6 separate regions of the Homo sapiens genome follow, and regions 1, 2, 3, 4 and 5 are each reported to be linked to region 6. Evidence: microRNA targets listed by miRTarBase, many of them from high-throughput screens and not tested one by one. Region 6 holds a microRNA gene; each other region holds the end of a gene's coding sequence.

What was found. The annotated mature microRNA hsa-miR-6785-5p reads UGGGAGGGCGUGGAUGAUGGUG and lies in region 6 at 2,521-2,542, shown strand. An mRNA with a match to its seed (bases 2 to 7 or 8) in the 3' UTR can be bound and repressed. Matches are read on the target gene's strand: a 7mer-m8 pairs with bases 2 to 8, a 7mer-A1 pairs with bases 2 to 7 and ends in A, and an 8mer does both.
Region 1: the mRNA of BRI3BP is a reported target of hsa-miR-6785-5p. Seed matches in the 3' UTR shown: 7mer-A1 at 3,172-3,178, 7mer-A1 at 3,306-3,312, 7mer-m8 at 3,609-3,615 and 7mer-A1 at 3,696-3,702.
Region 2: miRTarBase lists FAM151B as a target of hsa-miR-6785-5p. The part of its 3' UTR that is shown has no 7-base or 8-base seed match.
Region 3: the mRNA of HHIP is a reported target of hsa-miR-6785-5p. Seed matches in the 3' UTR shown: 7mer-A1 at 3,991-3,997, 7mer-A1 at 4,128-4,134 and 7mer-m8 at 4,465-4,471.
Region 4: the mRNA of AFG2A is a reported target of hsa-miR-6785-5p. Seed matches in the 3' UTR shown: 7mer-A1 at 3,356-3,362 and 7mer-A1 at 2,918-2,924.
Region 5: miRTarBase lists TMEM167A as a target of hsa-miR-6785-5p. Seed matches in the 3' UTR shown: 7mer-A1 at 3,195-3,201.

What each region holds. Positions count from the first base shown.
Region 1 is chr12:125,024,636-125,029,710 of GRCh38, forward strand. BRI3BP (BRI3 binding protein) reads left to right here. Exons shown (of 3, transcript NM_080626.6): 3 at 356-5,075. The coding sequence ends at 795. It overlaps THRIL (TNF and HNRNPL related immunoregulatory long non-coding RNA), which reads right to left and starts at 2,788. Exons shown (of 1, transcript NR_110375.1): 1 at 808-2,788.
Region 2 is chr5:80,540,993-80,546,067 of GRCh38, reverse strand. It overlaps FAM151B (family with sequence similarity 151 member B), which reads right to left. Exons shown (of 6, transcript NM_205548.3): 6 at 3,505-4,395. The coding sequence ends at 4,236. Among named protein-coding and RNA genes, the nearest start is that of ANKRD34B, 27 kb to the left of the region's middle.
Region 3 is chr4:144,737,509-144,742,583 of GRCh38, forward strand. HHIP (hedgehog interacting protein) reads left to right here. Exons shown (of 13, transcript NM_022475.3): 13 at 256-5,075. The coding sequence ends at 449. The region is part of intron 1 of LOC124900791 (a long non-coding RNA gene); the gene reads right to left. Among named protein-coding and RNA genes, the nearest start is that of HHIP, 94 kb to the left of the region's middle.
Region 4 is chr4:123,313,297-123,318,371 of GRCh38, reverse strand. AFG2A (AAA ATPase AFG2A) reads right to left here. Exons shown (of 16, transcript NM_145207.3): 16 at 1-4,484. The coding sequence ends at 4,308. Among named protein-coding and RNA genes, the nearest start is that of SPRY1, 81 kb to the left of the region's middle.
Region 5 is chr5:83,052,821-83,057,895 of GRCh38, reverse strand. It overlaps TMEM167A (transmembrane protein 167A), which reads left to right. Exons shown (of 4, transcript NM_174909.5): 4 at 742-5,050. The coding sequence ends at 812. Among named protein-coding and RNA genes, the nearest start is that of TMEM167A, 22 kb to the left of the region's middle.
Region 6 is chr17:75,496,033-75,501,107 of GRCh38, forward strand. MIR6785 (microRNA 6785) reads left to right here and starts at 2,516; the gene lies at 2,516-2,596. It overlaps TMEM94 (transmembrane protein 94), which reads left to right. Exons shown (of 32, transcript NM_014738.6): 23 at 1-42; 24 at 250-439; 25 at 698-775; 26 at 1,081-1,166; 27 at 1,749-1,830; 28 at 2,143-2,291; 29 at 2,412-2,506; 30 at 2,597-2,690; 31 at 2,880-3,050; 32 at 3,230-4,420. The coding sequence ends at 3,302. It overlaps CASKIN2 (CASK interacting protein 2), which reads right to left. Exons shown (of 20, transcript NM_020753.5): 20 at 4,229-5,075. The coding sequence ends at 5,048.

The sequences.
Region 1 (5,075 bases), not on the chromosome of region 6:
CTAAAGATACAAAATTAGCCGGGTGTGGTGGCGCATGCCTGTAATCCCAGCTACCCCGGAGGCTGAGACAGGAGAATTGCTTGAACCCAGGAGGCGGAGGTTGTGGTGAGCCGAGATCACACCATTGCACTCCAGCCTGGGCAACAGAGCAAGACTCCATCTCAAAAAAAAGAGGCTTCCCTGTGTGTCCTCATGGAGCAAAGTGTGACTATTCACAGAGGAACTTCCTTGAGTTCCTTTGGTTGTTGCAAAGGCCTTTTAAGCCCCACAGGCCAGCTCAACTATCCAATTCTAGCTTGTTAAGAAACCCCTGGCCCCTGCGTAACGAGCCCTGTTCCTCTTTTCTGTCCCGCAGTCTCCAACCTGTCCCAGTATTTCAGCCCAGCCTCGGTGTCCAGCAGCCCGGCCCGCGCGCTCCTGCTGGTCGGCGTCGTCCTCCTGGCCTACTGGTTCTTGTCCCTGACCCTGGGCTTCACTTTCAGCGTCCTGCACGTGGTGTTCGGCCGCTTCTTCTGGATCGTGCGGGTCGTCCTGTTTTCCATGTCCTGCGTGTACATCCTGCACAAGTACGAGGGCGAGCCGGAGAACGCGGTGCTGCCGCTGTGCTTCGTGGTGGCCGTCTACTTCATGACCGGGCCCATGGGCTTCTACTGGCGAAGCAGTCCCAGCGGCCCCAGCAACCCCAGCAACCCCAGCGTGGAGGAGAAGCTGGAGCACCTGGAGAAGCAGGTCAGACTGCTCAACATCCGTCTCAACCGGGTGCTCGAGAGCCTGGACCGCTCCAAGGACAAGTGAAGGTCAGCCGGCCGGGCGGGTCCACAGTTACCAGCACGCTGTCTCAGAAAACGAAAACGGAGGAAAAAAACCCCAAACCCCAAACAATCTTAATAAACACGACTGAGCAAGAAAGTGGCGCTGTGTAGGGCTATTTCCACCCACCCGGCAGCTCTTAGGACACATTCCCAGAAGAGCGGAAAGATCATTGACGTGGAACTACACACGAAGTGTAATTAGTGGGGGAAAAAATATTTTTTAAACAAAGGATATAACCATATTTAGTTGTACAGTAAGAGAAATTTATCTGTGCATAGAGCATAAAGTTAATTTTTTCAAGCATTTAAATACATCTTTTGTAAGGTTTTTTAATAAAGGCAGATTGAGTCAAGTTTATTAAAACTTTACATGGAGGGGAAGAATATGCTAATTTGACATTTGAGAAAAGTTTAAATGCGAGCGTTTGTTTTCACAGCTTAGGGATTGGTGGGTGAGGTCTGTGTGCGTTATTTTCATGTTCCCAAACTGTGAGCTTTATTTCATGTTATTTTTGGTGGATGTTGACTTAGTTCATGAATGTTGTCACTTCTAAATGTGGACAGTTGGGCTGCAGGATGCAACTCAACCTCTTTTGGATCCTAGAGACCCCTGCCAAGCCCCCATCAGTCCTATTTTTAAATGAAGACATCGCCATTTCTAGAAGACCTGAGATTTTCTTCCCTCTGTGCTTCGATGTATTTTAACCTCAACATTTTGAAACGGAAAATGCAAGGAGGGGCCAAGAAATGTCCTGGGGATTTGATGCCAGGAAGTACCTGGTAAGGATTGGAGATTGCTCCAGAATCTACTGCATGTCCCAATTTGCAGTTTGCTCACTAGGGCTATATACAAAAGCTATACCCTTGAGGGTTTTTTTTTTTTTCTTTTGATTTCCTCAGGACCTTAGAGGGAAAACAAACAGTAGCAGCTAATATTCTCAAGTATATTGCTGCTTAGAAAGATCCTCAGGAACAATTAGCAGCAATAAGCAAGCCTTTGAAAAGATCTGAATTCTTTTTCCTGAAATATTTACGATACACAGGTGCTTTTTATCTGAAATCTGTTGTGTCCTCCTTTTAGGCAGTCTCTGTGGGCAGAGAGTGGGACTTGCGAGGTGGACAGCTGTGGGGATCCTGGGCAAGGGAGTTTCAGAAGGTGTGGCTCAGGGGCTGGTAGAAACCCCCTTTTGTTAGGACTTGTTTTTTAAAAAAGAAAGCCCTAGGCCAGGCGCAGTGGCTGATGCCTGTAATCCCAGCGCTTTGGGAGGCCGAGGAGTATGGATCACCTGAGGTCAGGAGTTCAAGACCAGCCTGGCCAACATGGTGAAACCCCCGTCTCTACTAAAAATACAAAAATTAGTCAGGCATGGTGGTGGGTGCCTGTAGTCCAGCTACTCAGGAGGCTGAGGCAGGAGAATTGCTTGAACCTGGGAGGTGGAGGTTGCGGTGAGCCGAGATCACGCCACTGCACTCCAGCCTAGGCAACAGAGCAAGACTTCATCTTAAAAAAAAAAAAAAAAGCCCAGCATTTTGCAGCTTTGAAGCTGCTGGGGATCACGACTGTCTCTGTGGCCCTTACCTGGCCACAGATGTACCCTGGCAACCCGCTCACAGTGCCCTGCGTGCAGGTTTATAGATAACCCCTGCCAGACCTGCTACAACCAAGACCTTATGGTCCAGGTCTCAGTTTGGAGAAGATTTAGCTGTCTACCACTTCTTGTGTAGTGTTCCTGTGAAGTTTTATTTTTGGTTGCAAGTATCTGGAAAACAGATGCAGATGTTTTTGTGGATGTTGTTGAGACTTTTGAGACTTCTGTTTCTAAGGTACACATGATGGGACCCAAACTCTCCTGGAGAGTTCCATTCACTTCCTGAAACGTGCACCTGTTTCAGGTGCATGTTTATTCAGTGTGCATGGATATTTAAGATTTGCTGGAGCAGGCTGGGCAGGGTGGCTCACCCCTATAATCCCAACACTTTGGGAGGCCAAGGCAGGTGGATCACCTGAGGTCAGGAGTTTGAGACCAGCCCGGCCAACAGAGTGAAACCCCGTCTCTACTAAAAATACAAAAATTAGCCAGGCCTGGTGGTGGGCGCCTGTGATCCCAGCTACTTGGGAGGCTGAGGCTGGAGAATCGCTTGAACATGGGAGGCGGAGGTTGCAGTCAGCTGAGATCATACCACCACACTCTAGCCTCAGCAACAGAGTGAGACTCCGTCTCAAAAAAAATTATTTGCTGGATCGAATCTTTTTTTTTTTGAGATGGAGTCTCACTGTCAACCAGGCTGGAGTGCAGTGGCACCATCTCGGCTCACTGCAAGCTCCGCCTCCTGGGTTCACGCCATTCTCCTACCTCAGCCTCCCAAGTAGCCGGGACTACAGGCGCCCACCATCATGCCCGGCTAATTTTTTATATTTTTAGTAGAGACGGGGTTTCACCGTGTTAGCCAGGATGGTCTCGATCTCCTGACCTCGTGATCCGCCCGCCTCGGCCTCCCAAAGTGCTGGGATTACAGGCGTGAGCCACCGCGCTGGGCCTAGATCAAATCTTTATCCATGCACATTGGAACACAGGATTACTGGGTTGAAATCATTCTAGTTTTGTCATTTAGATACTTGTAGATGAATCTATTTTAGCACAAGGTATAAATAACTCGGGAGGTCATCTCTATCTTCTTTCCTTTTGTGCATTTGGCTATACCACGTTTAGGTACTAAAACAGCTTTGCTTATGTTGGCCAGGGGAAAACATGGCATTCTGTGCGCAAAGCTAATGATCGCCAGCCCTGCCTTGGCCCCTCCCTTGTTTATGGTCATTGTAAGATGCCCGCATGTTAAGGCTTAAGCTGTCACTGGGCTGGGTGTAATACCCGCTTCATTCCTCCTCCCACCCTCTTACCCGAAACATGAAGGGCACTGTGCTCTATTGAGATCTCGATAAGATCATCATTTTAACTTGTATTCAACTGAGGGAGGTAACATGATATCTGGGTGCTGGTGGATTGAGACCTCAAGCATCAATTCAAAATTGCTGTCGAAAATATGCACTATTTTTTTTTTCCACTCTGGCTAAGTGTAGGCTCTGAAGCCAGTTTTATAGCTTGATACATTCTGGTGAAAGATGTCTTCATTTTTAATGAAAGAACCTACAGTTAGTAGGTGTCACCTCAGGGTAGAAATTCTGATAGAAATTCTGATTATTTGAAACTCTGATAGAAATCCTAGATGCTAGATTTGAAGAAAACCTGGGTTTTATTGCATAGATTTCACCTTTTCTGGGGCACATCTTACCCCAAAATAATTGGGGATTTTTTTGTTCCTTCTCCATTCCATGGAACCTTGTAGGGTGTTGGGATTGGGCCTCCCCTCGCCACCCGCCACATGTCTTTGTTTTTTTCTCTCTTTTGTATGTGGAAAAATGTATTTTTGTACCATATCTCATACCTGGAGAGAAACCTTTTTTCTATCTTCAGGGCTGTAGAATATATTAGCGTAACACTTCACTGAATGTGACGTAAAAGCATTCTGATGAAAACTGGTTCTGTTATAATTAAGACTCAGTGTTTAAAATATCTTAATCAGTGTTAATTTCCCAGTGTTTCAGTATCACAGTAAATACTTGTTTTACTGAGAACAGAAAATAATCCAGAAAAGGAAAAGGACCAGCCCTCTCTAGATTGCTGGAATTGTATGGATGTGTTGGGGTTGGTTTAGTGATCTCTTCCTTGACACCCTAGCAAAGATGCTTTTGTGGAGTGCAAACCTTTCATAAATATACTTTCCAGGCTGGGTGCAGTGGCTCAAGCTTGTAATCCCAGCACTTTGGGAGGCCAAGGCGGGTGGATCACTTGCGGTCGGGAGTTCGAGACCAGCCTGGCCAACATAGTGAAATCCCGTCTCTACCAAAAAATACAAAAAAAAAAAAAAAAAAAAAAATAGCCAGGTGTGGTGGTGGGTTCCTGTAGTCCCAGCTACTCAGGAGGCTGAGGTGGGAGAATTGTATGAACCTGGGAGGCAGAGGTTGCAGTGAACTGAGATCACACCACTGTACTCCAGTTGAGGCGACAGAGTGAGACCCAGTCTCAAAAAAAAAAAAAAGTGTGTGTGTGTGTATATATATGTATATATATATACACACACACACACTTTCCAATACCAGTCGGCATTACCCGCCCTTTGGTTTCTTTTGCTTTGGATTTCAGCCCCCATATCATTTCTGGTAACAGAGCACAGCAATAGAATTTCTGGGAAGCAGACCTTGTG
Region 2 (5,075 bases), not on the chromosome of region 6:
AAGTTGCAGTGAGCCGAGATCATTCCACTGCACTCCAGCCTGGGCAACAGAGCGAGATGCTGTATCAAAAAAATAAAAAATTTTAAAAAGTTTCTGCATAGTATTCTATTGCATTTCTGTACATCAAGGCCTTTAAAATATATTGAAAATGGATATATAATTTACATACAGTAAAATGCACAAATATTAAATGTGACAACTCAATAAGTTTTTTGCCTTGCCTATGTACACATCAAAATAACCATTTCCCGGAACAAGATAGAGAACATTTTCAACACCCAAAAAAGTTCCAACATGCTCCATCCCAGACAAAACCCGACAGAACCGTATAGGTTACTACTATTCTGACTTCTAGCACCATGTATTAGTTTTGACTATTATTTAACTTCATATAAATGGATCCAGAGAATATGTATTCATTTGTGCCTTTTTTTTTGCATGATGTTGTTAATAACCTTTATTGTTACATCAGTTCAAACTGTTTTAGTGCTGTGTAGTAATTTCATTGTATGAGTCTACCATTATTTATAAATTCTCTTACTGATGAAAATTGGGGTTGTTTCTAGTTTTTGGCTATTAAGTTTTTATGAACATTCTTTTACAAGTCTTTTAATGTAAATACATGAGCTCTTTTCTCTTGAGTATATGGCTACAGATAGAGTGGCTGGGTCTTAAGGTAGAGATATACTTATCTTTATTAGAAACTGCCAAACTGTTTTCCTTTTTTTCCTAAAAGGTGTTTTTAGTCCTTATAATATTAACCTCTCTGGTGGGTATGTACTGGCATTTATTGTGGCTTAAACTTGTCTTTCCTGAATAAGGAATACTGTTGAGTTCCTTTTCATATTCTTTTGGCCATCTGAATTATTTTTTTTGTGTGAAGTATCTATTCAAGTCTTTTGCCCATTTTTAGTCAGTTTTTTGGGTTTTTTTCTTATAGTTTAAAGGAGTAATATACCCTCTGTCAGATATGTGTCAATGGTGTCTTTTCTGAGAAGTTTTAAGTTTTGATAAAGTCTATTTATCAATGTTTCCTTTTATGGCTAGTGTTTTCTGGGTTACAAGAAACCTATGCCTACCCCAAAGTCCTGAAAACATTCTCCCTTATTCTCTTCTAAATGCATTAAGGTTTTAGCTTTCACATTTTGGCCTAAGATCCATCTCAAATTATTCGTATATGGCATGAGGTAGGGATCAAGGTTATTTTTTTCCATATGGATAGCTATTAAAATTTTACTTTCCAACAGAATACATTTTATAATTCTCTTATGCGTTTTTGTTCCTGAGAACAGTTTAAAATACACCTTTAAATATTAATCTAAGTGAGGCTGCATGCAGTGGCTCACGCCTGTAATACCCGCACTTTGGGAGGCCAAAGCGGACAGATCACATGAGGCCAGGAGTTCCATCCAGACCAGCCTGGCCAACATGGCAAAACCCTGTCTACTAAAAATACAAAAATTAGCCAGGTGTGATGGCACAGTCCTGTAATCCCAGCTACTTGGGAGGCTGAGGGATGAAAATCACTTGAACCTGGGAGGTGGAGGTTGCAGTAAGCCAAGATTGTACCACTGCACTCCAGCCTGGGTGACGGAGTTAGACTCTGTCTCAAAAAAAAAAAAAAAACTAAGTGATATTAGGCTTATAGATTTCTCAATATATAATTTTACCATAATATTAATATTTTAAAAAAATTATCAAAGGTAGGACAATTAAGTAGTAAAAATAATATTCTGGACAAGTGAGTTTTACTTTGAACTTCAACAAAAGGCAGTTTATTTATAAATTCACCTGTCTTTAGTAATGCATGGTCTTTGTAGAAAATTTATAAATTAATTTACTATAATTTAAAAAGTTATTTTCTATAGCAGTTGAAATTTTATAATGAAATTGCACCTTTTGTCTTTGGCAAACAACCATGGATAGTAAAGTTTTAGGTATGATTTGACAAGAAGCATTCCATTTGACTAGAGCTGAATTTTCAAGTGGAAATACTATAATTGTCTTTAAGTATTTATATGTCTACAATGTTTGATGTTGTATCTCTTAGTGCTATCTAGCTATAATGGACATGATCACAGGATAAGTCTAAAAGAAGAGTAACTTTGCTGAGCATTCACTATGTCATTGAGCTAGATATCTCTACTACATGAATCTCACATAATCCTCACAACAACCCTACAAGAGAAATTTTATTCCCCCACCTCCACTTTATAGACAAGTGAGCCTGGAGTCAATGGCATTAAAGATTTCCCAAAGTCTATGGCTAGTAAGGGATAGAGGTGGGGCTGTAAAGAAAATCTGTCTGAATTCAAAACCCAAGATCTTTTCTCTATATAGAACTATGTTATTCTCTGGGAGAAAAATGGTTGATTGACAAAAGGCAAATTACATCTTTTAGGACATTCACTAGTAAATTACTTGTTAATAAATCAAAGCAGCAACATATTTTTCTGGATGTTTTTCTCAGGACTATGCCAGGCACTGTAAAAGATACTTAAGCATGAACCTTTGCCATAAAGGAATTTACAGTCTAGCTGAGGAGACATAGCTAACATGCACGTGTCAATTAGTGAAATAACTAAATAGTTAAGATTAATGGTTAAAGTAGGATCTAGAAACCATTGATGTTGAATAAATTTTTTAAATGAAGAACCGTGCTGGAGCACAACAAACTGACTTTTAGGTGGGACTGCATTATGAAGGGTCTTGAAAGAGGAAAACTGAGTAAAATTGAGTTTAAGCCCTTGAAGGTTTTTGATTTGGCATAAAGAAAGAGGTATTTAAGAAAGTTTTGGCTGGGTGTGGTGGCTCACACCTGCAATCCCAGCACTTTGGGAGGCCGAAGTGGGTGGATCACCTGAAGTCAGGAGTTTGAGACAAGCCTGGCCAACATGGTGAAACCCCATCTCTATTAAAAATACAAACATTAGCTGGGTGTGGTGGCGCACACCTGTAGTCCCAGCTACTTGGGAGGCTGAGACAGGAGAATCACTTGAACTGGGGAGACAGAGATTGCAGTGAGCCAAGATTACACCACTGCACTCCAGCCTGGGCAACAGAGCAAGACTCTGTCTCAAAAAAAAAAAAAAAAAAAAAAAAAAAAAGCCAGGCGTGGTGGCTCACGCCTGTAATCCCAGCACTTTGGGGGCTGAGAAGGGCAGATTATGTGGTCAGGAGATAGAGACCATCCTGGCTAACACAGTGAAACCCCGTCTCTACTAAAAAAATAAAAAATTAGCCGGGCGTGGTGGGGGGGCGCCTGTAGTCCCGGCTACTCAGGAAGCTCAGGCAGGAGAATGGCATGAACCTGGGAGGCAGAGCCTGCAGTGAGCCAAGATCACGCCACTGCACTCCAGCCTGGGTGAGAGAGACAGACTCCATCTCAAAATAATAATAATAATTATTATTATTATAAATAAAAAAAGAAAAGAAAAGAAAGTTTTGTTTAGCAGAAAAACTCAGATCTCTGAGTAGAATGTGAGGAATGAGCCGTGAAAAAAGTAGTTCATAAAGTTTTACTAGTAGAACAAGGACCTGAATGAAGGTGGTGGCAGTAAGAAACTTGGAAAACAAATGATACATAACAAAGACTAAAACTGCTCTCCAACAGTATATTGTCCACTATAAATCAGATACTATAGAAATAAGAAATATAAAAAAAACACTTAGCCACTAGCATGCTTCTCAATCACATGGAAATTCTAGATCTATCTAATTTAATCTACAGTTTCAGGAAATGGATTAATAGATCTTGATATGAGACAGCTGCTGACCCCTGTGAAAATTAAAAACATTTTAAAAGCCCTCTTCCTTTTTTGTTATCTCTAAAATAACCAGTTTTCTAGGAAAAAGGAAAAGAGTACCATATTTTTCATAATCTCTGTAATGCAAGTGCCAAGCACATGTGATTTATACCTGTTTTATGACATATGGATTCTGCCAATCATCTTTAGTTTATCAAAACTATTTTTATGAAGGGGTGCAGAGTATCATTTTCCTGAATTATTATTAGACTAGGCCACGTGTGTAAATAAATCTCTTCTTTCCAAATCTTTTATGTAAGTGCACTATTATAAGGACATATGCCCACAGAGTAAGCATACAATAAACGTTTCTTGATTAGATGACTTGGAACGTCAATCAATAACCATAATTTATATGGTAATTAATTCAGACCAATGGAGAGAAGGATTATGAAACCAAAACACAGGAAATAATTGAGAATCTTCTTCTTAGAGATTAACTTTGATTCCAATGGCTTGTTTAAATTCATGGTTTTGTGGTTCCAAGATGTCATAGAAAACTTGTTTTTTGTCAAAATGGTCTCTAATGTAAAGTAAATCTTCAACGGAATAGTTATCATTTTTTCCAGTCCAAATAGTCAGGCTGTACCTGCATTGAAATAAAACAGAATTATACAGTTAAAAGTGGAAGAAAGCGATGAGTCATTCCAATAAGCCTAAAAATGCTTTCATTTATCTCTAACTCAAATGCACTCAGATGAAAAAATTAATCAGCAATGGTGTAACTGTACTTTCATATTTCATTCTTTCATCAAGAGGGACTAGAGACAAAAAAACATTCATACTGCTGTTGTCTAAACGACATAACTGCTCTATCTGAATTGCAGGACTGTTAAATGGACTAAGAAACCAGATGAGTGGCATGGGAAATGGTTCTAATTTTGGAAAAAGGAATCGAAGAGACTATGTTGCTGATGGAGGAATCTGTAACCTGGGTTTGTTCAGGAGCCTGGTCAGGGTGAAAAGCACAATGGGAAGGGATTGTGAAGAGACACAAATGTCACTGACATCCACAATACTTAGAATCATATACGGAGGCCCTGCTGTTTCTTTTGGAGGTTTTTGTATGAGATACAAGAATGCCAAGAGATTTCACTAAGAATGACAAATAGAATACATTTAGATCTTTTTCTGATGAGCTGAAAACCAATAACCTATGTAAATTCATTATAGATGTAAGAATATGCTCAGAATGTTAATGTTACTTAAACTGTACACTTCTATTTCTTCTGGTGACACTACTACTGTTGCATTCAAGTCTAGGGAAAT
Region 3 (5,075 bases), not on the chromosome of region 6:
GTTGCAATTGTTTCTCATGATCTCTGCTTCTCTAGAAATGTCTCTCATTCTCTGCTGAGTTCAGGTCTCCAAATAACTATGGGTGTAAAAGCCTGTTTCCTACTTGCATATTTATCTTTCAGATCATTTTGTAACTATCTCCCTCCTTTTTTCCCTCGCTTCCCTTATTCAGCAAATATTTGTTGGTCTCATGCTCAGTCCTGTTTCTGACATACAGAATGAGAGTGTGATGTTCTTGCTCTTTTTCTCTCCCAGCAAAATGTGAGCCAGCATGTCGTCATGGAGGTGTCTGTGTTAGACCGAACAAGTGCCTCTGTAAAAAAGGATATCTTGGTCCTCAATGTGAACAAGTGGACAGAAACATCCGCAGAGTGACCAGGGCAGGTATTCTTGATCAGATCATTGACATGACATCTTACTTGCTGGATCTAACAAGTTACATTGTATAGTTTCTGGGACTGTTTGAATATTCTATTCCAATGGGCATTTATTTTTTATCCTGTCATTAAAAAAAAAAGACTGTTATCCTGCTACACACTCCTGTGATTTCATTCTCTTTTATTAATTTAAAAATAATTTCCAGAAATGTGCAGATCCTCTGTGTGTATGTCAGCATGTTTGTTCACATATGCACATACACATACTCATAACCCCTATATGCGTTGTTGCATAACAGATGATTTTTTAAAATATATACTTCCTTATGCAAAGTAATTTACACAGAAATTCCATTGTAAATTGATAATGGATTTTTTATGTTACTAGAAGAGATTATTTGACTTCCCAGGAATTTTCTGTCTGTAATCACTAAAGTCAACTTTAATAGAGTTTTGAAACAGTACTGTGCAATCCGATGGATCTAATTAAAAAAAAGGCAATATTTTTATATTAAAGTACTATACTAGGAGAGAATGTTTCAGAACTCCCTGATGAATTTCTAAGTGAGCAACTTGATATAAAATTGTAATCTTCATTTTTGTCAGTGTATCCAGTTACAGAATGCTACACACTTACCTTTTTATTGGCTGAGAAATCTGGTTATTTCATCTTAATCTCAAGATTGTTTTCAAGTGTTTTATAATTAAATCATAATAGCATATTTTAAAATCAATCTTCCTAAAAGGTCTGCTTTTATTGTATATTTTATTTAACAATAGGCACTGGGTTTGTGTTACATATTTATATATTTTATTTTATTTTTATAATATAGACATCACCTAGATGAAACACCTTTACCCTGTCCTGTAAAACACTAAAGTTACATTTTTCACCAACTTAATTGGAAAGAAGGGGAGTGAGAAAGCAAACAGTCTTTAATGTGCTGTGGATCTAATCTAGCAAGGTATCCTTGTGCCAACATGTAATCATTAACGACGGATGAAAAAGCAAGAAAACAGCCAATCCTTATAAAATTCCAGCATTAAACATTTGTAAAGTGCTTTTCACCATAGCAAGACTGTCAGAGTCTATGTTATTAGAATGTTGCAGATTTCCACTGAATCGAACCTCACTGGAGAAGAGCTCACTTGTTTTTAAAAATCTTGGCTATGTAAGCTGTCACCTGTACAAATTTTTAACATAATAATTCTTGCCAAATATGACTTTAAATGTACGTGTTCCTTCAGAACTCAATGAAAATACTCTTTGGCTAATGTATCAATAAATTTTCTGTAAATGTTCTGTTCAGGGTTTTACAGAGATGACATGTTCTGACTTAAAACTGCAAAAAGTCTAGTAGATATTTTTCTTCATGGTTTTCAAAGCCAGCTCTCCACGTTTGGATTTTAACAAAATATAAGGCCTCTTTGCACTAGTGAAAAAACACGTCTACTCATGACAAGTGCACACCCACTATGGCTGTCCTTCTTCTGTAAACATCCATTCCTCTAGAATCTAAATTGTAGAGCAGTATAGATTATGCAGCGCCAGCTGACTTTCTAAACCTTCTCCTTACCTTTAGGAATACAAGCCTCAATTTAAAAAATATATTGTAGCTAGTATTTCTCTATTGTTTTAAGGTGAGAGATTTGCAATTAAAGCCCAGTAAGCATTTATATAGAAGCCACAATGTAGAAAGATTGGTTAAGTACACTGCTCTTGTCTTCCATATATGATTACTTAAGTTTCAAGTGACCTCATGCCAAATGGAAATGGGTTGAGAAATCTTGGTTCAGTGCTTAGTGAACAATAGCCTGCATTAAAAAGTGCATGCATAATTTTGCACAATTTAGATTCAATTGACAGTCTATTCAAAGAAGTCTCAGGATTAAATGAGCATGGAGACCAAATTGCCCTCTTACCCCAGAAAAGGGGTGGTCCCTTCTAGTCACACTAACACTTCATTGGCCCAACAGTGTGACAAATCTTGCAATGAACCATGCAGTAGCCTGCATCTGTAGGTTAATAGCAATCTTTTGTCTCCATTGCTTTCTCTTCATAGCCCTTTTACTGAATTCCATCACAGAAAGTTTTACAATTAAAAAAAAATGTCCTGACAACCATTTTTGTAAATGGACCTTACCATCTAATTGTCCCTTATTCAACGTGGGTGACATTAACAAAATGTGAACTTCTTGTGAGGGAGCCAGCTGTCTAAATCTGTCAAATCGTGCAGTTTTATTACACATTCTCCAATTCTTCCTAGTTTCCCTGAAAACAATAAGGATACTGCTATATATTCAGTAAAATCTAAAAAAATCAAGCATTACTTCTTACATCTTTAAACTTTCCATCTCCTCCCCAAAATAAAAGGTGTTCTATTGCCATTAGTTCTACTGTTTTAAAATATCTATATTAAGTTGACCAGGCCCAGATTTTTTATACAGCTTTTTCCCAAGTGAAAGATTTTCAAGTGACTTAGAAAAACATATGTGCCCCAGGTGTCATTGCCTTTTCTTTTGTGAGTCATTAGAATGAAAGGCCAAGTTCTTCTCAAGAGAAGATAGCAAGATCCACGGATATTAAGCCAAGCAAAGAAAGTAAAATCATTGGAGTCATTTCTTTCTGTTCTTAGGAGAAAAGTAGATAGCACTGGCTAATTGATGGCAACATATTTTAAATTAAGTGGTCAATTCAAAAATTCTCTTTGACCTTTTCTTTCAAGTAGATTTTTTTAAATGCATGACTGGAGAATTATCTTCAATGATTCATGATGAGAGGCAGGTAGGAATTGGTTAAGAAGTATGAGCAGGAAAAAATTATTGTTTAATCACATGAAAGGCAACATCTGTTCAGTTCATAAAGCACACAGTCTCGAATGGAAGAAAAAAAGGTCCTTCGTAAGAATACTGATGCATAAGATAAAGACGAAATAATGAAAAAGAAAAATGTATATTATTATTCCCTTGTCCATTCTCAAGTTTAAGCTGCGGTTGTCAGTTGAATGTGAAATGATGTTATAGTTGTTTTAAATGGTTGGAAATAACCTTTCTACTACTGTTTCTGCCACACTGTTGTCCTGGTTCATAGAACCTTGTTTTCTTGACAGTTATTTAAGGTAATAAAAGGAACACAATTTGGCAGATCTTTAAGTGAAAGAGAGAAAAAATTTAAGAAATTGAGTGATGGCTAAAAGTAAGTGCTTCCATCCATAACTTTTCTTCTTGGATTTTTTTCAATGTAATTATTGTAAAATATATTTTTTTATTTTATCATGAAGAATACTCGGAAGGTTTCTCAGATTAATGAGTATCTCATAAAGAGTAGAGAAACCAACACATACAATATATACACACAACCTAAATAGAAAACTATTTTCTTTGTCATTTGCATGCCCCAGAGAAGTTACTTCTTCCCTATTTATTTCTTTGAAAATAATTACAAAATAGTATACTAACAATTTTAATCCATTTGCTGTTTTTTTTTTTTTTTTGGTTTCTTTTTTTTTTTTTTTGAGACGGAGCCTTGCTATGTTGCCCAGGCTGCAGAGCAGCACAATCTCAGCTCACTACAACCTCCGCCTCCCGGGTTCAAGCAATTCTCCTGCCTCAGCCTCCCAAGTAGCTGGGATTACAGGTGCCCGCCACCACACCCGGCTAATTTTTTTGTGTTTTTAGTAGAGACAGGGTTTCACCATGTTGGCCAGGCTGATTTCAAACTCCAGACTTCAAGTGATCCAGCCCCCCAGGCCTCCCAAAGTGCTAGGATTACAGGCGTGAGCCACCATGCCCAGCTTCCATTTGCTTTTGATATTGTTTTTATCTCTGAGTTACAAACTATACAAGCTTACCAGGTATAAGGTTAGATGCTACATCTAGGAGCATTCAAGATATACATTAATTTAAACTTTTATTAGTCTAACTTTCTGTTAAGTCTCTTAGCTTTGAAACATAAAAGAGAAATCAAGCCCAAATTTTTAGAGGAAGGCTAAGGTATACTATTGGCAGTTGTAGTTTTAATTGTAATTGACTGATTAACCAAGTAATTTATAAAATGTTACCTATACTGTCAGTGTTCACCTCCTCTCCCTCCCTCCTTCTCTCTCTCTCTCCCCCTCTCGCTCTCTCGGCTAATATATATGTGTATGTGTATATATATATGTATGTATATATATACACACACACACACACATACATACATACATACATATATTCTTTTTCCTTTTAACCACTTCCCTCTCCTACATTTTCTATTGGTTTTGCCTAAATAGACATGTTCTCAATACACCCATGTTGAAGGTATCCTGGGCTAGATTGCTGTTGATTTTGCTGGTTATGATCTTTTCTTTGTTTTTCTGAAAAATAGCCTCTCTTGATTCCACATTTTCTCAAATTCTATATAACAAATAATAGTGGATAGTAAACAAATGACATACTAGGCTGATCTATTACAATCATTGAAAGAAATAAGGAAGAGCAGAAATCACTAACAGTCCAGAGGCTCCAATTCAGCTGCTCTAGCATAGATACAGGAAAGACATGGAGAATAACACTGGGGTTAGCTAACAGCAGGGAAAGTTAGTAGCTATTTCCTAGCCAAGGAACAACCTTCTCTATGGAATAATTTTAAGAAAATTATTCCAAATCTGTGAGGAAAAAATAAGAAGCAGTTCCTCAATGGAGACTTTATAAATCTTA
Region 4 (5,075 bases), not on the chromosome of region 6:
CATAACTTCCAACTCCTTTGCAGGACTACAGTGCTATGGAAATAGATGTCTTATTCCCAGACATAATGTCTCCCATTGTGTCAGGTAATGAGAGTGTCAGCTACACATTACTTTCAGCAACAAATTCCTCTTTATTTGTTTCCTAGGTCCTAAAAGCCTGATCTCTTATTTGCCTTCTTGCATTTTATTCCATTGTACCCAATACTCCTGATTTTCCAGAAACATGGGGTTGTGGGCACTGTGGATTGCATTGTAAATTCATGGAATTGAGTTAAATGATATGACTGTATTGGTTTAAGGCCCATCTTTTAAAAATTATCACGAAATATTTAGGTACACAAAAAGTACAGACTATATTAAATCAGCACCTATATTCCCATCACCCACCCTAAGATATGAAACATTACTGACACAATTGAAGCAGCTCAACTTTTCTCCCCTGAGGAAATTCCTCACCAGTATTTGGTGCTTTTCTTTTCTATTCATTTATTCTTCCACTATATATGCCCCCATAAACACATATTTTTCATGCTTCAAATTTTAAATATCATATTCCTCTAAAACATTCTTTGTTCATCCATGTTTCATCCCTATTTCATATGTAGCTCTAATTATTTTTTATTGCCACAGTATTCCATTGTATGACTATCACATATATCTATTACTGATGGATATTTAGATTGTTTCCGGGTTCTTACTACTTAAAAATAATGGTGCTATGAACTTTCCTATTCACTATCTCACTGCATCAATGTGAGACTTGCTCTGGGATATGCACCTAGGAGAACTGTTAGATTGTAGGGTCTTCAACTTTGCTAGATAGCCAGTTGCCTTCCAAAGTGGTTGTACCAATTTATGCTCCCATCAGCAGATCTGAGGCCCCACCCATCACATCCTGTGAGATTACAAGCCCTTGGTAAGCAAGGCATTAGCTTTTGGAATCCTCTGAGACGAAGCTACATTCCTGTAACTAGTCCAAGTGCTAGTTACCCCCAGGGCATTTTTAGCTTGGCTCCATGTTTTTAGGTTAATTTGTAGGTTTTGAGGTTTCATGAATTTGAAGGTAGTGTGAATTCAAATCATTCTAAAGCCATGGGCAGGTAAGCTCATAGTCAGAATTCTCAGAGGTTTTTTTTTTTTTTTTTTTGAGACGGAGTCTCACTCTGTCACCCAGGCTGGAGTGCAGTGGCGCAATCTCAGCTCACTGCAAGCTCCGTCTCCCGGGTTTACGCCATTCTCCTGCCTCAGCCTCCCGAGTAACTGGGACTACAGGCGCCCACCACCATTCCCGGCTAATTTTTTGAATTTTTAGTAGAGACGGGGTTTCACTGTGTTAGCCAGGATGGTCTTGATCTTCTGACCTCGTGATCCGCCTGCCTCGGCCTCCCAAAGTGCTGGGATTACAGGCATGAGCCACCGCGCCCAGCCCAGAGAGGCCTCTTTTAAAAAATGTTTTAAAAATCAAAAGCACAGGCCAAGTCAGAAAGCCTCCTTGTGGTCTTCCTGGCCAGCAGGAGATTTTTCTTTTCTTGTCTACCCTTGTGCTGAGAGTGTTGGTTATTATAGAGCTTGAGCATTATGTGCAGAGCTCAGTTGTCACTTCATGTTATATGGGCTGAAGGCTTTGAGTGGCTATTAATATCTAAACTTGTTGATTGAGACTGCTACCCTCCTCCCCACCACCCAGCCTCCTGCACCAGAGTCATTTCAAGCTTCTGGTTTTTATTCTATTGGGAATGAGATTTCTTTCATTTCCTTGTTTAGGCCCTGAAGGATAAGTTTTCCTCTTATTTTCTTGTGCCCTTAGCCATATATTTAATAGGGAAGAAGGTAAGTTCCTCTCTTGTTTCATAATTTTCTATGTAGATAACAACTAAAGGGAACACAGAGCATAAAAGTTTTGAGGTTGTATTTATTTCAATATGGAAGTCTTGTTTTCCAGATCTGCAGCGTCCAAGAGAACCTTCTGAATGATGGGAATGTTTTCTACTCTGTCCAGTGTGGCAGACCCTTGCCACATGTAGCTATTGAGCATTTGAAATGTGGCTGATATGTCTGATAAACTAATTCTTAAATATTATTTAATTGTAATTAATTTAATTAAAATGGTCAGATACAATTAGTGGTTATTGTATTTGACAACACAGTTCTAAGTGGTAATATTCTTTGTCCCCTAGGTGGGTTTATGTACTGGTAAACCAGTGTTGTCTTGAAAATCTGATATTTTTGAGGATGTAAATATATTTGAGGATTAAATATTTGAGATGTGACTTCAGAATATATGTCACCACAGGCTGGGCATGGTGGCTCACACCTGTAATCTCAGCCCTTTGGGAAGCTGAGGCAGGAGGGTCACCTGAGGCCAGGAGTTGGAGACCAGCCTGGGCAACACAGCAAGACTCTGTCTCTCTGTTTAAAAAAAAAAATTAGCCTGACATGGCAGTGTGCACCTGTTGTCCTAGCTACTCAGGAGGCTGAGTCAGGAGGATCACTTGAGCTCCAGGAGTTTGAAGGTGCAGTGAGCTACGACTGTGCCACTGCATTCCAGCCTGGGTGACACAACAAGATCCTATCTCTAAACAAACAAACAAGGAATGTATGCCACCACAAAACTGTATAGCCCATTATTTTGATAATCAGGTATTTCTTGTCTGATTTGTCTTTCTGGGAATTTTCAAAGATCTACAGTGATCAAGTTTAAGTGCACATTCTTCCCATTGCCAGTTTCTGATCTGAAGTCAGAGAATCACTTTCTGAAAGCTTTTTCAAGAGTATTTATGAAGTAATAAAGTGTGAAGAAATCCTGAGGATAAATAACAAGAAGCATAAATATACATATTTAGAATGCAACATAATATGTTTAAGATTACAATTTGGCGGCAGGGCGCAGTAGCTCATGCCTGTAATCCCAGCACTTTGGGAGGCCGAGGCGGGCGGATCACGAGGTCAGGAGATCGAGATCATCCTGGCTAACACGGTGAAACCCTGTCTCTAATAAAAAAAAAAAAAAAAAAAAATTAGCCAGGCATGGTGGTGGGCACCTGTAGTCCCAGCTACTCAGGAGGCTGAGGCGGGAGAATGGCGTAAGTAAACCCAGGAGGCAGAGCTTGCAGTGAGCCTAGATCACGCCACTGCACTCTAGCCTGGGCGACAGAGCAGCGAGACTCTGTCTCATAAAAAAAAAAAAGTACAATTTGGCCTATCTTTGAACTAAAAAGTTTACTGGTACCCTGAAAATATGTATAAGTAAAAACATGAATGCTTCATATGATTTATTAAAAGCATTTTATGAAAAAAAAACAAAAACACAAAACCTCTCCAGGTATGGTGGCTCACGCCTGTAATCCCAGCACTTTGGGAGGCTCAGGTGGGTGGGTCACCTGAGGCCAGCAGTTCGAGACCGGCCTGGCTAACATGGTGAAACCTTGTCTCTACTAAAAATATAAAAATTAGCTGCGTGTGGTGGTGCACACCTGTAGTCCCAGCTACTCAGGAGGTTGAGGCAGGAGAATTGCTTGAACTCAGGAGGCGGAGGTTGCAGTGAGCCAAGATCGTGCCACTGCACTCCAGCTTAGGTGACAGAGTGAGACTCTGTCTCAAAAAAAAAAAAAAAAGACAAAACAACAACAAAAAAAACCCAAGCCTACTGATCTAGGCTTAGAGTGGGCTTACACTTTCAAAGGGCATTGTATTATACAAAATATCTCTCAAAAAAAATTTTTTTGGCCATAGGTAGAGATTAAGAAGGCTAAAACAAAAATGCATATATGAATTTTAATGATAACACATATATGTATATTTGAAAACAAGGCCACATAAGCCTGGCTGGCACATTGGGCCATTTTACTGGCTGGCCTTCAAAAATAAAGATTACAAAAAATTTATCCACATACACTTTTTTATATCCCTAAAGATTACAAAAAATTTATCCACATATACTTTTTTATATCCCTGTATAAAATTGATGCCAACATGTTTGGCATTTTAGAAAGACACTCAAACAGATTCTGGAAAAAGAAATCGCTTCATGGGATGAACAGACTAGGTCGCAAATGAAAAAGCTAAACATTTGTTTTTTAAACCACACCACAAATTTCCAGGTAAAACTGATTGAAACTTATGCTCAGAGATATTTTCACTGTACTTACATGACTTGAAAATCTGTAAGAACCAAAGCCCCTAAATTCTACTGAACATACTTCAAACATTTTGCCTAGTAAAATTTTTTTTAACACTCTCAAAAAATTTTAAAAAGAAACAAATTTTCTCTGGAAAGGATTTTCAGCATCTTGAATATATATATTTTCTCAGAGTGTATGCAGCCCACTCTTCTCTTGATAATCTTCATAAAAACGTCTCAATGACTCAGGAATTCTAGGTGTCACAGTGCTCAAGGCCTGAGTGAAATGTCTTTTCATGATGAGATTGGCTTGAATGTCTTCTTCCAGAGCCAGAAGAGCTGCCTCTCTGCAGACAGCTACAATCTGAAATTTTAAAAAATAAGTAAATAAAAGGAGGTAGAAAACAATCAGTACTCTTTTAGAAACATAATATTCCAAATATTCATCTGTGGTACCTTCTACAACTAAATGCCCATTGCTAAAATTTATCTGCAAGAATTAGTCCACTCAAGTTTTCAAAAGGATAAAAGGTAATCATATACAGAGCATTCTGTTCTTTCCTTCATCCCAAAGCAACGTATTAAGTACTCAGAACCAGGAGTGCCAAAAGATATCTAAGAAGTGGCATTTGCTTTTAAGGGCATTTGCTCTTAACTGTAAGGGTAGGTAGCTGTGCACGCACATACTTTTAACAAGGGATGGCAAAGGATGCATGTCTCTATGTGGTGGAGGGAGGCGGGAGCCAACGGTCAAGGGAGGGCAGAGGGGGAGATATTCTGATACAGAGTGAGGCCTTGCTCATCAACACACCGTGTCATAGCACAGAGTTTCCACATTCCTTTCAACCTTTGATGTATTACCAACATGTAAAAGCATTTCTTTATGTGTATCTCTTTAATGAGTTCTTAAATCTCAGGAATATCAGATAGGGTTGTCAACATTTACTTTGGAGAG
Region 5 (5,075 bases), not on the chromosome of region 6:
CACAATGACATGATCTCTATCTGTTTGCGAGACAATTCACAAGCCAGTTTGAGATTTACTTCGTACAAAGGAAAGCATCCAAATACAAGCATTCCTTAAATGCATGTGAAAAATTGACTGATACAGAAGTGGTTAGTTTTAGTTCTACTTTTCTAACCCAGAGTAAGCATACTATCTCAGAAATAGTTTTTCTAATTTTTTTAATTAAGCATTTTAATTTGTCCATTTTTTAAATGCAGTTTTATTGACCATCCTCTCTTTATTTTCATCCATGAATGCTCCCCCTTCCCTGTACCTTTAAGTGTCACAAATTGCTACCAGTAAGGAAAACTGTTGTGTCTTTTTATGGATGGAAGTTTTGTTCTTTTTATAGACAGAAAATAAACAATATTTCTTTGGCCTCAATTGAGTTGAGATCGTTTCTCTTGGATCTCTGTCCTACATTCTGCATTGTATTTTTTAGTGTCTGAGTTTACACAGTGACAAAGAAATGATGCTTTCGAGGTTTTCTAAATATATGAAAAGAAGATCCTCTTAGAAATAAATTGATATATTAATAGTTTAGCCCATTCTGTATTGTACTTGTTTTTTATGTTGCATCTAGTTTTTGTCACTGCCCCACCCCCAATGTGCGGGCCTCCTAGGGAAGAATGTTATCTTGATTCTTATGGTAGTATAACCTTGTCATAGCCAGGTTAGCCACTCAGTTAATCAAGATGAACATCTCCTTTTTTTCAACAGGTGAACGGAAGAGTCCTTATGTTGCAGTATGCTGTATAGTAATGGCCTTCAGCATCCTCTTCATACAGTAGCTGGGGAAAATGCCAGAATGTAGTTGCCATCAGATTTGATTGTGAACAAGGACTGACTGCAGAAAATAATGGAAAGGATGTTTAACTCTTTTATCTCCGAACATTGAATGAGATAAATTTCCAGATGCTGTTCTCTATTTTAATGTTATTGGACCAATGTTCTGTATAAACAATTAAGATGTAACCATTTAATAGTCTGTAACAATCAACCTCAGTACTGTCACTACAATATTACATTCTGCAAATGTTATTCTGTTGTATCAGATACAAAATTTTAGTGAGGTATCTCTAAGGCACATAGTAGAAAACAAAATTGGTTAATTACTCAAGTTCCTTTCACTGTGATTTGGAAATGATTTAATCTTTATAGAATGAGAACCTTTTTTGGACTAGCTTTTTTATTAAAATGGCTCAATTTGTGTTGATAAGGATTGCATTAATATTTAATAGTGCTTGCTTTTCCTCTGGGCACACCATTTTGATCATTAACCAGAGTACCTCTACTCTTAGCAAACTCTAGTTTATGACAAGTATTTAAAATATTTAAAACAAGCTTATGCAGTTCTTAAGGACGAAGGTAAATGAGATGTAACTTAAAAATAGTATTGGGAAAATGTTGATAGTTAACATTAGTGGATTTAGACTAGCCAAATGACATAGTAGGCTCTGAAACATCTTGTCAAGTATATGTATTTTGTGCATGAATTTTTGCTGGAAAGCTGTCTTTCTCTGAAAAACACAACGTTCTTAGAATGAAAAGAACAATTATAAAATAATTATCCTATATGTGTTTTTCATTCTTTTTAGTGTCATGGCTTCAAAAATGAAACATTTATTTTAATTGCCGTAAAGGAACTGTATTTTTGTTTTGTTTTTTAACACAGCACTTTAAATCCAGTTTGTGTTTTGTCAACTTGAACTGGAATCTCTTTTGTTACTTTGGAGGTGATAAATAGTTTTCAAATCTGCTGATTTGTATACTGTGGCACAAGTATCTTTGAACTTTGATAGTGAAAGGAGACCTTCAACAATTTTTAGTCTAGGCGAGAGGAATATTAGGAATGTGACTTCTAAATTTTACAATAGAGCAGTTATTTTAAGGTCATGGTTAACATTTCTTAAGGTTCAACTAAAATTCAGTTAAAATTTCAGAGCTACGAGGAACTTAAATCTTAGCTAAAAATTACCTGTTGTAGATAGTATTAATTAGATTGTTTGCAGCTATTAATTCATCATAAAGATAAAATGAAGAAACTCTCCCTTTTTTTAAACAAAAAAAATTATTTCTAGATTAATAGGCTAGTAGTTATTTCTGCAGAAACAACGTATGGAACTGAAAGCCACCTATTTTTATTTTAGACTAATTTAAACCACTTGGAATGGATTCTAGGAAACATCTTAAGCTTGTGTGTTGCCTGTGGTGGTTTTTTGTTTGGGGGTGTTTTTTGGTTTTGGTTTGATTTTCTGTATTTTGTTATCTGGGGATTTTTTGTTTGTTTGTTTTGGTTTGGTTTTGGTTTTATATTTTTGGCATGTCTATGGCAGTTAAAAGTGGTATATTTTGCTTTAGATAGGGAATCAGGTTATAATCATTGTTCTTCCTCTAAACTGCCTCTTGGGCTTTACATCAGGTCAAGGATTTTTAGGGTTTCTCAAAAATAGGATTCTTGTCAGTGTATGCATGCTGAGTAAGTCACCTTTCTGGCTCTAATTTCTGGGTGGCCATCTGTTGTCCAGCTCTGCTGCCAACTGGACTTTCCGAAAGCCATGTCAACTAATTTTTTATATGCTAAGACAAATCGAATATGAAAAGAGGAAGAATATTCTAGATATTCTAAGACATTTCTTAATTTGGCATCTCAGAGGAGGTAGGTGGAAAGTAAAGGAAGAGATAATTTTGGGGGAAAATTTGTGGAAACATACAAAACGTTTTGCTTTGTATAGATGCTAAACAGAGTGGGAGGCAGCATATTTGTAACAACAACCATTCTGACCTTTTGAAACACAAGCTTTTGGAGAAGTCAGGGAGAGACACAGTATGAATAAAAGCAATTAACATTTTCTTTAATGTATATTTTTCAAAGAGGACCACGGAATCCTGTTCTCTAACCCAAGGGGCAGTGTAGGTGGTTTTAAGCCCACAGAATATTGAGATATTTCTCTTGTGGTTTTGGTGGGGTGGTGGGATGCAGAAGGTTATTAAAGATCAATTTAAGCATCAGATAGACTATCCCTTTTATTTTTTTAACTTTTAGGTTCAGGGGTACATGTGCAGGTTGTTATATAGGTAAACTCATGTCAAGTGGTTTTGTTGTACAGATTATTTTGTCACCCAGGTGCTAAGCCTAGTACCCAGTAGTTATTTTCCCTGCTCTTCTCCCTCCTCCCACCCTCCACCCTCAAGTAGGCCCCAGTGTCTGTTGTTCCTTTCTTTGTGTCCTTGAGTTCTCATCATTTAGCTCCTACTTCTAAATGAGAACATGTATTTGGTTTTCTGTTCTGTGTTAGTTTGCTAAGGATAATGGCCTCCAGCTCAGATGGAATATCTCTATCATATAGACCTGTTGTTACAGGGCAGGATCGGATGATGGACACTGAAGTCCTCAGCTTGCTAAGTTCAGTTGCTCTCCCTAGCCTCCTTTTGGCTTCAGAGTCTTTTGATTCCATCTATCCTGGTATTTTTTGTGTGCTGATGTTTAGTTCTGGATTGGCTTCAGCTGTGCTAATAGGAAGGGCGTTGTCTTTTCAAGCAATCTTAAAAGGTGGTCAATCAAAAGGCCAGAGTCTGAATCCCTTCTGTGGCTTAAATAATTTGAGGATCAAGTCCAGTGTCTTGTTAATCCCTGTTCTACTGTGCCAGACACTATCTTGAATGCTTTTATATGTTCAGGTTCAAAATCGCTCTTTCATACCAGGGGATGATAGTAACGTGTAACTTGCAATAGATTCCTTCATCTTAGTAATAAGATGATCAGTCTAGTTAGGACAAAATAGAGATTGAATAAATTAACTTTTCCAAGTTTACAGAGTAAAAATGAGCAGATCTCTGCCTGGTTTTGTGAAAAAGAGTTAGCACTGGTAAATAGAATATTTCTACTCCTACACCATTCTTTCAGTATATCATCACTGAAGACAGGAAGATAGGCACACAGATTCTTCCTCGTAGTAATTCATAGTGCACTAGGTGAAAGAGATGAAGTATGTATTAAAAGTACAATGTGATGGCATTTATTATTCAGATAATCCCAGGATTCTAGAAGAAAATAAAGAAGAGTGACAGTTCAGTTAGGGTGTGAACTTCCAGAGGAGCACTGCTTAAGCTGAACTTGAGAGCATTGTGCAAAAGCACAGTAGTCTGTTAAGAACTAGAAATAACCTAGCTTGTGCCACTTCGGGAGTATTAAGACATAAGCCTAGAAAGGTAGGCAAAGGTTAGATCTTAGACTGTCTTGTATTTTTCTCATTCCTGTTGATTACCTACCTCAAAATTGAATATGTTTTTCCTCCTGCCTAACACAAAACTACTCAAGGGCAGAAATTTAAATTCTTCCTTGGTGTATGTGCAAAGAAGGTTGAATATATTCATGCCTACCTTATTTTGGACTAGGAATACAGTAGTATACTTTCCGAAGACTTGCCTGAATAGTATATAAGGTGGAGGCAACTGACTAGTTAGGTCAGTATTTTTAGAAACTCTTAATAGCTCATACTCTTGATACCAAAAGCAGCCCTGATTGTTAAAGCACACACCTGCACAAGAAGCAGTGATGGTTGCATTTACATTTCCTGGGTGCACAAAAAAAAATTCTCAAAAAGCAAGGACTTACGCTTTTTGCAAAGCCTTTGAGAAGTTACTGGATCATAGGAAGCTTATAACAAGAATGGAAGATTCTTAAATAACTCACTTTCTTTGGTATCCAGTAACAGTAGATGTTCAAAATATGTAGCTGATTAATACCAGCATTGTGAACGCTGTACAACCTTGTGGTTATTACTAAGCAAGTTACTACTAGCTTCTGAAAAGTAGCTTCATAATTAATGTTATTTATACACTGCCTTCCATGACTTTTACTTTGCCCTAAGCTAATCTCCAAAATCTGAAATGCTACTCCAATATCAGAAAAAAAGGGGGAGGTGGAATTATATTTCCTGTGATTTTAAGAGTACAGAGAATCATGCACATCTCTGATTAGTTCATATATGTCTAGTGTGTAATAAAAGTCAAGATGAACTCTCAAGAGCCTCCTACTTTTGTCTTATTGT
Region 6 (5,075 bases):
CAACCTGCGGAACAGCTGCCTCTTCCTCCAGAGCGACATCAGGTCAGGGCGGGACCCTGGAGCCTGCGGGCCAGCCTCTACCTCCCAGACCGGAGGATCAGATGGGCCTGCGTGGGGCTGGGGGTGTGTACTATAGCCGACCTCGCCCTGGCTGGGACCAATGCACCTGGGCATGGTGGGAGAAGAGGGTGGGGTGCCCAGTCCTGTGGGAGATACAGCTGAAGTGTGTGTGTCCCCCACCCTGAGCAGCATTGCCCTGGATCCCCTGTACCCATCCCGTTGCTCCTGGGAGACCTTTGGCTACGCCACCAGCATCAGCATGGCCCAGGCCTCGGATGGCCTTTCTCCCCTGCAGCTGTCAGGGCAGCTCAACAGCCTGCCCTGTTCCCTGACCTTTCGCCAGGAGGAGACCATCAGCATCATCCGGCTTATCGAACAGGTGGGTGCTTCGGCAGGCAAAGGAGGAGAGACGCAGGACAGGACCCGCCTGGGGTGGGAGTAGCAGCAAAGGACCTGTTTGAACCCGGGGACCTCATTCCCCAGCCCTCCGAGCGGGCTCTCCCAGGCAGTTACATTCGCCTCTGCTCCCCTCGTAGAAGCATCCTGGGCGTCTGGCTCTTGGCTAAAGTGTGTCAGCTGTTGGGCCTGGGAGAGGCCAGGTAGACCCAGGCCATAATCTGTCCCTCTTGGTCCCTAGGCTCGGCATGCCACCTATGGCATCCGTAAGTGCTTCCTCTTCCTGCTGCAGTGCCAGCTGACTCTTGTGGTCATCCAGGTGAGGTGGGGCCCGCACAGGCATTGCCCCCGTGCCACTCACCCCTTCACTCAGGGGCCAGCTGAAAATCTGAGGAAGGAGGCTGGGGTTAGCAGTACAGTCAAGGGGTCCCCCCAGAGCCTCTGTGAAGCCCCTGGGCTTTTTGAGCTGACCCTCATTGGCAGAAGAGTATTCCCTCCGGCCCCTGTTCCCTCTGGCAGGATGTGAGCATCTATCTGGGCCCAGGGCAAGGGAGCTCGGGGGCTCCTATGCCCTTATTATTTGCCTGAATTGAACTGTGGCTCTTGGCTTCTTTCCTGGTCTAGTTCCTTTCTTGCCTGGTCCAGCTGCCGCCACTCCTGAGTACCACCGACATCCTGTGGCTGTCCTGCTTTTGCTACCCTCTGCTCAGGTGAGATGCCATGTATCTTCCCCACACCCCATGCCTAAGCAGGAGGTGTCTGGATGTCACTGTGCAGCCCCAGGAGCCCAAGGTTCTGGAACTGCTCAGGTCTCACCTCCTCTGGTACAGGAGGCATGGAGGGAACCCCCTTTGTCTTTTTTTTTTTTTTTTTTTTTTTTTTTGAGATGGAGTCTCGCTCTGTCACCCAGGCTGGAGTGCAATGGTGCAATCTCTGCTCATTGCAACCTCCGCCTCCCGGGCTCAAGTGATTCTCCTGCCTCAGCCCCCTGAGTAGCTGGGATTACAGGCACCCACTATCATGCCTGGCTAATTTTTGTATTTTTAGTAGAGATGGGTTTTTGCCATGTTGGCGAGGCTGGTTTTGAACTCCTGACCTCAAATGATCTGCCCATCTCAGCCTCCCAAAGTGCTGGGATTACAGGTGTGAGCCACTGCCGTCCAGCCTTTGTTTTATTCCATCCCCTCACCAGACTCGACCTCACGCGCAAGACTCCCTAGAGGTTCCCTCTATGAGAATTGAGGGACAGAGGGTCATTGTCACCATCCCTCTACCTGATCTCTGCTTTTCAGCATCTCTCTGCTGGGGAAGCCCCCCCATAGCTCCATCATGTCTATGGCAACGGGGAAAAACCTCCAGTCCATTCCCAAGAAGGTAAGCAAAACAGACCCTGTGAGCCTTGCAAGTGAGCATGGAAGGGACTGAGGATTGGGGGAGGAGAGAGGGGCTAATCTGGAAGGCTCTGGATGGGGGATTCCAGCAGAACTCCGGCACTTGGTTCCTAGTCTTCCCCCAGATCAAAGAGGAGGTAGTGGCACAGAGCTGGGAAAGACCCTTGCTGGGGCTTGAGCTCCCTATCCCCCCAGGCCTGACCATTTACTAAGAGCCCGTTGAATACGTGGAAGAGCTAGGAGCAGCCGGCAGAGGGGCTGTGCGCCCCAGGAGTGACTGGCCTTGTTCCCGCAGACCCAGCACTACTTCCTGCTCTGCTTCCTGCTCAAGTTCAGCCTCACCATCAGCTCCTGCCTCATCTGCTTTGGCTTCACACTGCAGAGCTTCTGTGACAGCTCCCGGGACCGCAACCTCACCAACTGCTCCTCCGTCATGCTGCCCAGGTGGGTCCCAGCCCCAGAGATCCACCCATCGCCTGCCTCGCCTCGAGGCTTCCTCCCTCCCCACCCCAGCCTACCTCCCTGCGGCCCTAGAGGGGCTGAGCCCATGCCTCACTTTGGCAGCAACGACGACAGGGCTCCAGCCTGGTTTGAGGACTTTGCCAATGGACTGCTGTCGGCTCAGAAGCTCACGGCCGCCCTGATTGTCCTGCACACTGGTGAGAGGGCTCCCTGGGAGGGCGTGGATGATGGTGGGAGAGGAGCCCCACTGTGGAAGTCTGACCCCCACATCGCCCCACCTTCCCCAGTCTTCATTTCCATCACCCATGTGCATCGCACCAAGCCCCTGTGGAGAAAGAGCCCCTTGACCAACCTCTGGTGGGCCGTGACAGTGCCTGTGGTGTGAGTATTGCTAGGATGGAGGGCGGAGTGTGGGCTGGGGAGGAGAGGGCCTTCTGCAGGGCTAGGATCGGAGGGCGGGACCGGGGCCAGTGGTTTAACTGTACCCTGCCTGAGCTAACTGTTGTACTGGGAAGAGCAGGGAAGGAAGCAAGCAGTGTCGGGTTCACACGGGGCCGCCACCTCCTGCAGGCTGCTGGGTCAGGTGGTCCAGACGGCTGTGGACCTGCAGCTGTGGACACACAGGGACAGCCACGTCCACTTTGGCCTGGAGGACGTGCCCCTGCTGACATGGCTCCTGGGCTGCCTGTCCCTGGTCCTTGTGGTGGTGACCAATGAGATCGTGAAGCTACATGAGATTCGGTGAGCTGTCAGCAGGGCGCCTCCCTCTGGGCTCAGGCATGTTCCCTAAACCTGTTACTCCCTTGGCGACACTCCCCCACCTTTCCGCTGCCCATCCCTCCCTCCTCCTCTGGTGTCCTGCCCCGGCCCCTGGTCTAAGGATCTTTGCCAACCTGTACTTTAATCTCCTGCCCCACCAGGGTCCGAGTCCGCTACCAGAAGCGACAGAAGCTGCAGTTTGAAACTAAGCTGGGCATGAACTCTCCCTTCTGAGCCACTGGCTGTGGTGGCTGTAGTTGCCCCCGTCCCTGGGGCTAAAGCCAGACCCATTTCTGAACAGGGGAGTTTGTATCATGAATGTTTCCAGGTTTGCTCCTGCACCCGTGGCACTGGAAACCCAGCTCCCCGTGTCAGACCCCGCTGTCTTCCTGAGCCCTGGGGCTCACTGTGGAGGAGCTGACGGCCTGGGCCCTTGGCCAGTCCTGGCTCTTCCCTGGGCCTCACCAGGGACACTCTTGAATGTATGGCCTCAGGCGCTCCCTAGAGGGGCCCTAAACCCCCTCACCTGTGAGCTACCCCCTTTAGGGATCCCTTGCCCCCTTGGAGATCCCTTGCCCCCCAGTGCCTCTGCTCGTGGGTCCCTGGACACGGCCTTGAAGCCAACCTTCTTTGGAGGAGCAACAGCAGCAGCCTTGGCCGACGCGTCCAACTCCCAAGGCTGCCGTGGAGGGCAGGGGGGTGGTGCTTGCCTGGATGTGGCCCCGAGTGCCTCCCCTCCCTCCCTCTGTGGGGGAGTCTCCCGCCTGAACCTGAAGATGGAGCAGGGCCCCCGCTTCGCCCTGGAGCCTCTTCCTGTGCCTGGCTCAAGCTGGCTGCCTGTCAGTCTTGGGGAATCTGGCCCAGGTCTCCTCAGCCTCTGCCCCAGTTCTGGGAGAAGTTTCTACTGGTGTATATTTTTTACTGGAAATGAGCCTTTTAGGAATGAATGTAGACTGGTTTGTATTAAAATGTGTCAATTGCTAAGAAATACCTGTGGCTGGTCTGTAAGGCCACTCCAGGGTCTGCCCACCCCCGGCGGTGGCTGGCAAAGGGAGGCCTAAACCTTCCTCCATCTACGCGGGTGGGTCCCTCAGGTCTGGCTCAGGCGAGACCCCTAGGGTCAGGGGTCCCCATGTCACAGAGGCAAACACACAGCCCAGTCACGTGGAATGGTGTTTTCATTGGTGTTAGTTGGGGGAAGAGGTTAATGGTTACAGAGCCAGGGCCTGGGCCAATGGGGTCAGGCTCTCCCTGCCCTCAGGTGGGCAGTCGGGGCTCCTGCTGTGGTCCGAAGCCCCTCCCCCATTGTGTCCTCTCAGGCAGTTGATAGAATAAATTCCATTTAAAATATATGCATTTCTCTCTGCTTAGAAAATAACATTTACAATTGAAAAGTTAGGACTTGTGGGATCTGTTAACCCCACTGCCTCCCACCCCTGCTAGCCCTGCCTCAGTGAGGGAAGGCGGGGGCAGGAGCTGCCTGGGCACCACCGCTGTGTATTTACATGTCCTCTGTACACCTACGGAGAGGGGGCCCGGCCAGACACACGCCTCCTCCAGCCTCTCAGGGCCTGGGCAGGATGGTGGGTGGCAAGAGGCATTCCCTTGGCACAACTTGGGACATGGGCTGGGGGGTACAGAGAAAGCACCCCCAAAGCCCCACCCCTACTTCCTCCCTGAGGAGAGAGCTCTTACCAGGGTCCCTGTCCAGGAGCAGGGCTGTCCTGCTCAATCGATCAAACCCTGGGAGGGGCTTTGCTGAGATGCAGCGGAGGTCCCTCGCTAGTCAGGTTCTAAGGTGGGCTGCCCCACAAGAGCTGTGGTGCCCACAGCCGCGGGCTGAGTGGGAAGGGGCCCTGCTAGGAGGGGCACTTCAGCCTGACCAGCCCTTGGCCCGTCCCTAGGGTGGCAGGGGCCTCTTCTGTGCTGGGGCAAAGGCAGTGGACTTCGGCAGGTCACAGTGGGCACTGCTGGAGGGCTCAGTCCAGCATGGCGTCCAGCTGGTCA